3 linked regions of the Homo sapiens genome follow. The protein of the gene in region 1 interacts with the protein of each later gene in a biochemical or structural test. Each region holds a gene or a part of one and is shown in the gene's direction. Other genes may lie near its edges. The genes, in order: H4C7, KMT5C and KMT5B.

What was found.
Region 2: of the proteins of H4C7 (region 1) and KMT5C, one has a biochemical effect on the other in vitro, tested with the Homo sapiens proteins (one study listed by BioGRID).
Region 3: of the proteins of H4C7 (region 1) and KMT5B, one has a biochemical effect on the other in vitro, tested with the Homo sapiens proteins (one study listed by BioGRID).

What each region holds. Positions count from the first base shown.
Region 1 is NC_000006.12:26,246,010-26,249,268, reverse strand, and holds H4C7 (histone H4-like protein type G), read left to right. Parts: upstream 1-2,272; 5' UTR 2,273-2,291; coding exon 2,292-2,588; 3' UTR 2,589-2,658; downstream 2,659-3,259. UniProt on the Homo sapiens protein: Core component of nucleosome. Nucleosomes wrap and compact DNA into chromatin, limiting DNA accessibility to the cellular machineries which require DNA as a template.
Region 2 is NC_000019.10:55,337,925-55,341,672, forward strand, and holds the start of KMT5C (histone-lysine N-methyltransferase KMT5C), read left to right. Parts: upstream 1-1,951; 5' UTR 1,952-2,033; exon of another isoform or gene 2,034-2,790; intron 2,791-3,748. UniProt on the Homo sapiens protein: Histone methyltransferase that specifically methylates monomethylated 'Lys-20' (H4K20me1) and dimethylated 'Lys-20' (H4K20me2) of histone H4 to produce respectively dimethylated 'Lys-20' (H4K20me2) and trimethylated 'Lys-20' (H4K20me3) and thus regulates transcription and maintenance of genome integrity.
Region 3 is NC_000011.10:68,206,631-68,210,378, reverse strand, and holds part of KMT5B (histone-lysine N-methyltransferase KMT5B), read left to right. Parts: intron 1-3,748. UniProt on the Homo sapiens protein: Histone methyltransferase that specifically methylates monomethylated 'Lys-20' (H4K20me1) and dimethylated 'Lys-20' (H4K20me2) of histone H4 to produce respectively dimethylated 'Lys-20' (H4K20me2) and trimethylated 'Lys-20' (H4K20me3) and thus regulates transcription and maintenance of genome integrity.

The sequences.
Region 1 (3,259 bases):
TGGGATCACAGGCGTGTGCCACCACGCCCGGCTAATTTTGTAGCTTTAGTAGAGACGGGGGTTTCACCATGTTGGCTATGATTGGTCTGGAACTCCTGACCTCAGGTGATGTGACTCCTTGGCCTCCCAAAGTGCTAGGATTACAGGCGTAATCCACCGTGCCCAGCGCAATTTCTTGTTATTCTAGTAATTTAATCAGCCTGGCCAACATGGAGAAACCCTGTCTACTATAAATACAAAAAATTAGCCGGACGTGGTAGCAGGCAACTGTAATCCCAGCGACTAGGGAGGCTGAGGCAGAAGAATCACTTGAACCTGGGAGGTGGAGGTTGCAGTGAGCCGGGATCGTGCCACTGCACTCCAGCCTGGGCTACAGAGTGAGACCCCGCCTCAAAAAAAAAAAAAAAAAAAAAAAAAAAAAATCTAATTATTTCAAAATAATGTAGAAATAGGCTGTGATGGGATTGCTGCTTTTATTGCTTGGAATTCCATGGTTTATCAAGTTTGTTTGTTTGTTTTCCCCACAAATAGTTGTTTGCACTCTTGGCTTTTTGTTGTGGTGACCTGCTCATTAGGCCATAATTCATTTATGCAGTTACATGATTTTTTAGATATTGCTGACCCTGCTTCAAAAACCCATGATCTTTAGGACTGTTTGTTTGGTGCATCGTAACTGCACAATAAAAAATCCATTGTTATTTTGAACATTCTATTTTAGAGACATCATTTATTTCCACTTAAATGCTCTCGTTTAACTAGCTCAGCAAGTATTTTGTAATGTAAAAATTTAGTGGTGCTTATGTCTTTATTTTGGCTTGTGAGCAAATTCCCCTTTTCTCCTATTAACATTTATGACAGCTTTCCCTGAGTTTCCTGTTGTATCAACCCCAGAAGACAGTCACCCCCTGTACCTTCTGTCCTCCACATGAGAACAGGGCATGGAGCCTCTGGCAATTTACATTATCTTTTTTCTGGGCAATTCTTCATTGCTTAATTGTATAGTGCTTAATATAAGTGAAAGCACACTGAATGTATTGGTGTTGCAAAGGCAATGTTTTAAAATCCTTCGGTGTGCTTTACCTCTGCATTATTATTTTGTCTGTAAAAAAAGGCTGTGGCAATAAGAATTCGTTTACCAACTGGCCGGTGAGGTGGCTCACGCCTGTAATCCCAGCACTTTGGGAGGCCAAGGCGGGCGGATCACCTGAGGGCAGGAGTTGGAGACCAGCCTGGCCAACGTGAAATCTGGTCTCTACTAAAATACAAAAATGAGCCGGGAGTGGTGGCACATACCTGTAATTCCAGCTACTTGGGAGGCCGAGGTAGGAGAATAGCTTGAACCCAGAAGGTGGAGGTTGCAGTGGGCAGAGATTGCGCCATTGCACTCCAGCCTGGGCAACAAGAGCGAAACTCCGTATTTTAAAAAAAAATCATTTACTAACTATATGCCAGTGTTTTGCTTAAAGTAACTCAATTATTAACAAGTATTTACCCTTTTTACAGATAGGGCCATTGAAACTCAGATTAACATGTCTAATATCGGTGAGAGAGCAGTCACTCACAGATTCGAAACCAAAAACCAGGCTACTTCTCTTTAGCTGGGCGGCTTGGCAATATGATTAGGAATTCTTTTATGTCTTGGAATTTGGGCTTGTTTCAACTTCAGCATGGTAAATGCTCTAATATACAGGGAAGGAGTAAATCTTTTTTTTTTCTTTTTTGAGACGGGCTTCGCCCTTGCCCAGGCTAGAGTGCAGTGACGTGATCTCGGCTCACTGCAGGCTCCACCCCACGGGGTTCATGCCATTCTTCTGCCTCAGCCTCCTGCATAGCTGGGACTACAGGCGCCCGCCACCTCGCCCTGCTAATTTTTTGTATTTTTATTAGAGACAGGGTTTCACCGTGTTAGCCAGGATGGTCTCGATCTCCTGAGCTCGTGATCCGCCCGCCTCGGCCTCCAAAAGTGCTGGGATTACAGGCGTGAGCCACCGCGCCCGGCCAGGAGTAAATCTTTAAACACATACAGACATCAAAAATCGAGATACTTTCCTCTAGGTACATGTTTGACACTTTCGTTTAGAGATCCTTATTCTCTAAATGCCAGCAAATCTCCCTACTACAAGAGAATTTCTTATGTCTTGTTATTACTAGAAGTAGATGAGCGGGGACTGAATACGTTTTCCCGCCTTTCCTGGTCTTTCAGTTTTCAAAAAGGTCTACTCTACCGTTATATAAAAGGCTGCGGAAAGCGAGTAATCGTTTTGTTTAGAGATAGTTCTGACTTGTTTATCATGTCTGTTCGGGGCAAGGCCGGAAAAGGCCTTGGGAAAGGCGGTGCCAAGTGCCATCGCAAGGTACTGAGCGATAATATTCAGGGCATTACCAAGTGCACTATCCGGCGCTTGGCCCGGCATGGCGGTGTCAAGCGCATCTTGGGCCTCATTTATGAGGAGACCCGCCGGGTGTTCAAGGTGTTCCTGGAAAATGTGATCTGGTACGCCGTGACCAACACGGAGCACGCCAAGCGCAAGACGGTCACCGCCATGGCCGTGGTCTACGTGCTCAAACGCCAGGGAAGAACCCTGTAAGGCTTTGGCGGTTAAGTGAGGCCAGGCCTTTCCTTGCAATATCGTTAATGGCCCTTTTCAGGGCCGCGTACGTTTTCTTCCGAAGGGCTCACGTTTGACATTGTGGAAACTTAACTAACGCACTCAGCAATATTGTGTGTTTTATTGCTGTAGGTGCCCAAAAGCTGTTAGGTGTATAATGCTGTAAAGTATAAATTTACGCCAAGGCTGACATACAACATGGAATACAGGTGGTAAGTTAATCGTGTGTTCAGAGATTAGAAATCTGGTGGGCTGGCTGAGGACATCAACGGCTACATTGTCACTTAAAAGCTCTCAAAATGTGGTTATGGTAGTGTGTTTTTCTCCTTACTGTTAGGATTACCCTCCGTAATTAAAATTGTAGTTTTAGTGCCAAGATAACCCGACTTTTATATTCTGCTTAATAAGCAATTTCAATAACCAGAGAATACACAATAATTAGCACAAACTTGCCAGGTGCCGTTCTGACAAATGTGTCTGCAGTGGAGGGACTGGCCCCCTTGCTAGTTCAATGATCTAATTTAGCAGCACTAAAAGAAGTTTACCTGTTTCGTGCCTTTGCTTGTGATCCATCGTAAATATAGAAACACCTTGATAAGGTGTAACTGCAATAATTCGTGTCTCAATTTACTGTTTATGAAAGTACAGGG
Region 2 (3,748 bases), on another chromosome or scaffold:
TACTCAGGAGGCTGAGGCTGTAGGATCGCTTGAACCCAGGAGGTCGAGGCTGCAGTGAGCCATCCTTGCACCACTGCACTCCAGCCTGGGCAACAGAGGAAGACCCTGTCTCAAAACACAATACAGGCCAGGCATGGTGGCTCATGCCTGTAATCCCAGCACTTTGGGAGGCTGAGGTGGGTGGATCACCTGAGGTCAGGAGTTCGAGACCAGCCTGACCAACATGGTGAAACCCCGTATCTACTAAAAAAAAAAAAAAAAAAAAAAATTAGCCGGGCATGGTAGTGCATGCCTGTAATCCCAACTATTTGGGAGGCTGAAGCAGGAAAATCGCTTGAACCTGGGCGGCGGAGGTTGCAGTGAGCCGACATCGCACCATTCCACTCCAGCCTGGGCAACAAGAGGGAACTCTGTCTAAAAAAAAATTAGCCAGGGGTGGTAGTGCATGCCTGTAATCCCAGCTACTTGGGAGGCTGAGGCAGGAGAATCGTTTGAACCTGGGAAGCAGAGGCTGCAGTGAGCCGAGATCACTCCACTGCACTCTAGCCTGGGCGAGAGAGCGATACTCTGTCTCTGTCTCTCTCTCTCTCTCTCTCTCTCTCTCTCTCTCTCTCTCTCTCTCTCTCTCACACACACACACACACACACACACACACACACCAAAACACCAAAAACAGCACACCAAAACAGCACCTACTCTGTGGCATGCATTGTTTTAAGTGCCCACGATCTATAGCTGTACAGTGGAGCGCATGTCTGACAGTGATCCTATATGTGTAGACACACAAGCGCCTACATTGTGTTACCGGACAGTAACATGCTGCACAGCTGTGTGGCCCAGGAGCCGCCGGCCACCTTACAGCCCAGGTGCCAGCAGCCCTGCCACGTAGGTGTGAGTGATGTTGCTCTAGGATGCTGGCAGGATGACGACATCGCCTGAGCACGCACTGCCCAGATGGTATCAGTGTCGTTAAGGGAAGAATGGCTGTGGCGAAACAAACAAACAAGCAAACAAAGACCGCCTGTTCTGAGTGTGGAGCTTATTATTCTCGGCGTAATTATGATGAATTGTTAGTTACGTTTGCCTCTAGGATTGAGGTAGGGGGGGTGATCCCAATTAGGGGGTGCCCCAGGGGAGCGCCCCAGGAGTCAGGGCTTGTCTCAAAAGTCCCCACTCCTCCCTCAGCCTCCCCTCCCTCCATCCGACCCCGTTCATATCGCGGGAAGGTCCCACAGAGTGCGTGTGGATACTCCCAAAACGCAACGGTGTAAACGGGGAGGGAGGGAGAGAGACTGAGGAGCCCTTTGTAGCCAGGCAGAGCTGTCAATAAAGTTTCGTCGCCTTGGTAACCGCAGGCCTCGCGGGGCGGGAGGGGAGAGGGATGGCGGTGCGCGCGCATTCACCGCCTCCCTCCCGCCGGGTCTGGCTTTCTCCCTCCTGTGGCCGAAGCTTTCCTCGGAGAAATAGAAGAGGGAGGCCGCGACTCTATGGTGATGGACGGAGGCCTTACCCAATGGAAAGAGGAGCTGTCCCAAGGCCAGGCAATCATATACGACTACTGGAGCTGGCAGAGCCCGCCCTCTTTCCACTTGGACCTGAATAACCCGACCCAAACCGAGTTTCGCCCGGAGAGACTGCGCTTTCGGCCAATGAGTGCGTCGATTTCGAGCCCCAGTGTGAGCGAAGGCGGGACAAGTCTCCATGGCAGCGACTAAAGGACAGCGATGTGAACCACTGACAACAGTTCGCGGCGTTTGACGGCGGCGGGGGCGTGGCGGGGTTTTATCTGTGTATTGACGAGAGCCGGGCGCGGAGGGAAAGAGTGGGGCTTGGCCAATGGGAGCGCCGTGAGCTTCGTAGCAACGGAGGAGTGGCGGTGGCTGTGGCCAATAGAAAGCCTCAGTGGCCTTGGCGGGGCTGGCCCGGAGAGCAGATGGGAGGTGCGGCGACAGTGTTTGACGAGAGCCGAAGGAGGCTGTGGGAGGTGTTGGCGGCGGCGGCGCGGGCGCCTGAGGAGGAGGAGGAGAAGCGGGTGAGGGGCGGCGCGGGGCCCGATCTCTGAGCCCCTTCACGGCCCCAGCCCCGCGCCGCCTTGGCTCCCCAGTCGCCCCCTGCCCCGACTGCCCCCCACCCCGCCCGGCCCCTCCTCGTGTCCAGGCGCCCACGTCTCCCGGCCCCTCGCCGGGCCTCGGGCTCCGCGGCACTGCAGCCTCCTTCCTGTGCTTCCTCACCCGGGCCCTGACCCCCTTCTTACGTCCACGGCCCTCCCTGCATCCTCAGGGCCTCTCCCTGACCTCTTGTCACTCTCCAGGCCTCTCCCTGCACCCCCCAGGGCCTTTCCCTGACCTCACCCTCCAGGCCTCTCCCTGCACCCCCAGGTCTCTCCCTGCACCCTCAGGGCCTCTCCCTGACCCTTCTCTCACCCCCGGGACCTCCCTGCACTCCCAGGGCCAATCCCCGACCTCCTCTCACCCTCCAGGCCTCCTTCTGGACCCTCTAGGTCTTTCTGTGCCCTAGAACCTCTCCCTGACCCCTCTGTCCCTCTCCTGGCACTCCCTGGACCCTGAGGTCGGCCTCTGACCCTCCAGGTCCCTTGCCCTGGGCTCTCACCGCCTACCCAGGCGCCTCCCTGGGTCCCCAGGCCCTTCCCTAGGGTCTCCCTTTCCTGGATCCCCCAGGACCCCACCAAGCCCGTTTGGATCCCTGGGCCCCTGTCCGCCCTCTCAGGCCCTTCACTCACTGGACACCCAGGATCTTCTCCGCCATCCCTGGACCGCCCCCCGACCCAGGTCTCCCGTCTGGCTCCTCCCTGAGTCCCTAGGCCATTCCCCGCTCTCTGTCCTCCCTGGCACCCCCATCCCTTCCTCACACCCCTCTGAGCGCCCCCAGGCCCGGCTGCAGCCTTCTCCCTCCCACAGCCCCCTGCCGTGCCCACCGCTGTGCGTTTCTCTCCTTGCCCCCAGCCCCCTCTCCAGCTTCCCCGCTGTCCCTGGCGTCCTCCTGCAGCGCCCCCTCTTTCTCTCCCGCAGCCTCGCAGTCTGTCCCCGACCCCTCCACAGCCGTCTCTGCAGCTCCCGCTCCTTGCCCTGCCCCATCTCCTCCTCTCCTGGGCGCGGATGAGCCTCGAGCGCCGTGGTGCGGGGACGAGGCTGGCCCTCCGTCCGGGTTAGGGGTTTGGGTGGTTTTCTTCATCTCTCCGTTCTCTCCTGGCTCCGCTTTAAAAAAATGTTTTTGTAAATATTGACCTGTGCTGCCTCCCCATAGTCTTCCTTTGCTCCCCTCCCCACCCCCGCTTTTGTCCTCTGAGCCCCCCTCCCCTGGAATCCTTGGAGAGGGAGCAGGTGCTGGGATCCCTCCCCTGCCCTCCCTCCCGTCACCCGCCTCCAGGCTGCCTGGGGCTTCACCCGGAGCCTCCTGACCACTCCCGAAGGCTGCCGGGGAGGCAGGGGGCGGAGACCGAGGCTGGGTCGAGGTGGGGGTGGAGGGCGGGACCTCGGGCTGGCGGGAAGCTTTGACTTTTCCTCCTTGAGGGCTAGAGGTGAAGCGGCTCCCCACGGTGCTAAGCCTTTAGGGTGATCCCGGCTGCCAATCAGTCAGCCTTCTCTGGGCCCAAAGAGATGTGTGTGTGTAGGGGGTCTCTGTACATATGGGCAGGGGCATCTGCGTGTGTCAGTCTGAGTGTGCATGGGTGTGCATGTGGGGGTTGTGTGTTTAGGGGGGATCTGTGTCTGCGCTGCGGAGCAAGAG
Region 3 (3,748 bases), on another chromosome or scaffold:
ATCTCTCTAATCACCTTAGTTCATCTGCATGTTTCATGTAGTTTTACCTCCTTTTTTTGAAATGTCATTATGAGATAGTTAATCAGTTGGGTTTTAGAATTGAGAGACTAGGGTATCAGTGTCCCCCCCCCCAAAGCTTGATTGGGGGCCTGTATGACTCCTACAATGCCAGTTGCATTTCTATAAGCTGTCTTAGTTTGTCTGTTGTAATAGCACACTAAAGAAAACAGTACCGGCCGGGTACGGTGGCTCACGCCTGTAATCCCAGCACTTTGGGAGGCCGAGGCGGGTGGATCACGAGGTCAGGAATTGAGATCATCTTGGCTAACACGGTGAAACCCCGTCTCTACTAAAAATACAAAAATTAGCCTGTAGTCCCAGCTACTCCGGAGGTTGAGGCAGGAGAATGGTGTGAACCCGGGAGTTGGAGGTTGCAGTGAGCAGAGATGGCTCCACTGCACTCCAGCCTGGGCGACAGAGCAAGACTCCGTCTCTTAAAAAAAAAAAAAAAGGGGGAAAGAAAACAGTACCTAGATCCGGGGATCATTTGCTGGTGATAAACCTCTAGGTGGTACACGTGGCTCAAGCACTGGAGTAAACCCCAGACTGCAGTTTAAAGATGAAGGTTTTAGACCCACCCTTACCACTTAGTAGCACTTTGAGTTTAGGAAAGCAATTTGTTTCTGAGCTTTAGCCTCCTTGTTGTAGTGCTAATACCTGTTTCACCTGATAGGGTTGCTGAGCTAGCGAATCCCGAGTCCTGCATGTTAGGGGAACCAGTAGAAACCGAATGTGTGTGTTGTGACACCTGTGTTTCTACCTTGTGCCACCTTTATAGGAATGCCTGGTCAGCACATCTCTAATGGCACTCGGCTTGCTTCTCAGGCCTTACGCAAAAGGCCCATTCAGTGAAGGGTCATTCTGCTTCCTAGTCTGTACTTTTCTACCCTGTTAACTTTTTTTCCCCTTATGCATCTGTTTGGTTTTCTTCCCTGACTCAACGACTGATTTTCCTGAAAGTAGAAGCTCTCATACGCCCTCTAGTGTTCCCTGGACATGACCAGTATTCCAGCACCACGAACAGTGCCTGGCAGCTCTGGGAGGTTCTTCATAAGTTTGTTGAACTGAGTGGATTCTAGGTCGGCCCGATGAATTGTTTTGCCTGTCTGATTTGTATAACACGGTTGAAATGTATGATACATTTTAATGGTCTCTGAGGAGTATTTTTATTTTCGAGGCAATGTTTATGTTGCATCATATGGAGAAATAGATATTTTTAGTAAGAAAACCAATCTGATTTTAGGAAGCTGCAGCTTTCCTCACTGAGAAGTAAAAGGGGGCTTGATCCTTCAGCCAGTGAGCCAGTGGCACCATAGGAAACCCCCCTTCACTTTCCCCCTTGGAAAGGAAACAAAACCAGACGTCATTCAGGGTCCTGGAGGGTTTAAAGCAAATATTTGTTTGGTGCATATAAATAAGTACCAGGAGGGCTTTTGACCCAAAAAAGGTATTTTTTGTTTGTTTGTTTTTGAGACAGGGTCTTGTAGCCTCCCAGGCTGGAGAGCAGTGGCATAATCCCAGTTCACTGCAGCCTTAGTCTCCTGGGCCCAAGCAATCATCTCGCCTTGGCCTCCCAAAGTGCTGGGATTATAGGATGAGCTGCCATGTCTGGTCTTGTTTTTATATTTACAATTTTGATTTATATTTCCCTGATCATCCCATCTCAAGTCCATTCTTACATTAGTCTCTCTCCTAACATCCTGTTTGTTTTTCTTACAGCTCGCATCAGATTGATAACCACATACTTACTTACATCTCTTCCCATAGTATGCTCTGACCTCTATGCAGTCAGGAACGATGTCTATTTTGCTCTAGAGTTTTACTCTTCAAATATGGGGCACAGTGGTTTTTTTGTTTGTTTGTTTGGAGACAGAGTCTCACTCTGTTGCCCAGGCTGGAGTGCAGTGGCGCGATCTTGGCTCATTGCAACCTCCACCTCCCAGGTCCCGGTTCATGCAATTCTCCTGCCTCAGCCTCCCGAGTAGCTGGGATTACAGCCACATGCCACCACGCCTAGCTAACTTTTGTATTTTTAGTAGAGACGGGGTTTCACCATGTTGGCCAGGCTGGTCTTGAACTCCTGACCTCGTGACCCTCCCGCCTCGGCCTCCTAAAGTGCTGGGATTACAGGCGTGAGCCACCGTGCCTGGCTTGGGCGAAGTGTGTTTAAAAATTTGTTTGGGGCCAGGCGTGATGGCTCACGCCTGTAACCTCAGCACTTTGGGAGGCCGAGACAGGTGAATCACGTGGTCAGGAGTTCAAGACCATCCTGGCCAACATGGTGAAACGCTGTCTCTACTGAAAATACAAAAATTAGCTGGGCGTGGTGGTGGGCACCTGTAATTCCTGCTACTCGGGAGGCTGAGACAGAGAATTCCTTGAACCTGGGAGGCAGAGGTTGCAGTGAGCAGAGATCGTGCCACTGCACTCCAGCCTGGGCAATAGAGCGAGACAGCGTCTAAAAAAATAAAAAATTTGTTTGGGTCATTATTCTGTGTTGTTTTTTGGTTTGTTTTTTTTTTTTTTTTGAGATGGAGTCTCACTCTGTTGCCCAAGCTGGAGTGCAGTGGCACGATCTTGGTTCACCACAACCTCTGCCTCCTGGGTTCAAGCGATTCTCCTGCCTCAGCCTCCCGAGTAGCTGGGACTACGGGCAGGTGCCACCATGCCTGGCTAATTTTTGTATTTTTAGTAGAAATGGATTTTCACTATGTTCGCCAGGCTGGTCTCGAATTCTTGACCTCGTGATCCGCCCACCTCGGCCTCCCAAAGTGCTGGGATTACAGGCGTGAGCCACCGTGCCTGGCCTGTGTTGCTTTTTTGTGTGATATTAACAGTACACAGTCTCTCAGCCTGGACTTCACTTCAGTTTTTTTTCTAATTCTCTGAGTTTTGTTCTCATTTGTAAAATGGGGATGATAGTATTGAGTGTGTGTTAAAGGGCAGTGATGTTTGTATCTTCTTTTATAGGGTGTGAAAATAATCTGTTTGACCAGGTACACCACAAACTAAACTGTGTTGTAAGAAGCTCTGTAGTCCAGTCTGTGGTCCCTCTGAATGTTTAGGATGGGAGATGTAGCTTGGCATGATTTTTTTTTTTTTTTTGAAACGGAGTCTCGCTCTGTCGCCGAGGCTGGAGTGCAGTGGCGCAATCTTGGCTCACTGCAAGCTCCGCCTCCCAGGTTCACACCATTCTCCTGCCTCAGCCGCCACCATGCCCGGCTAATTTTTTGTATTTTTAGTGGAGACGGGGTTTCACCGTGTTAGCCAGGATGGTCTCGATCTCCTGACCTCGTGATCCGCCCGCCTCAGCCTCCCAAAGTGCTGGGATTACAGACGTGAGCCACTGTGCCCTGCTGCTTGGCATGATTTTTAATCATGCGTGTTGCAGCCAGAAGTTACATTCCTTCTCTTTGGGAACTGTAGGGAAAGCAGAACTGGTGCTCAGCCTTGTGTCATAATTATTCTTTTGCACATTTGTTCTTTTTTAAATGGGTGAGGTGATGAGATTTTTTTTTTCATGTGTGAGTTATGGTGGGGAATAGAAGGGAAATTTCTACTTGATTAAAGTTTTGTGAAGAATGTTTCTGGCCTGCTTTACTTTTGCCTTAGTTACTTGGAAGGGGAGACCTTAATTTGTTAGCAGTTTGTGCTCATTTAAAATATCTTGTGCCAAACCTAGGGAGGC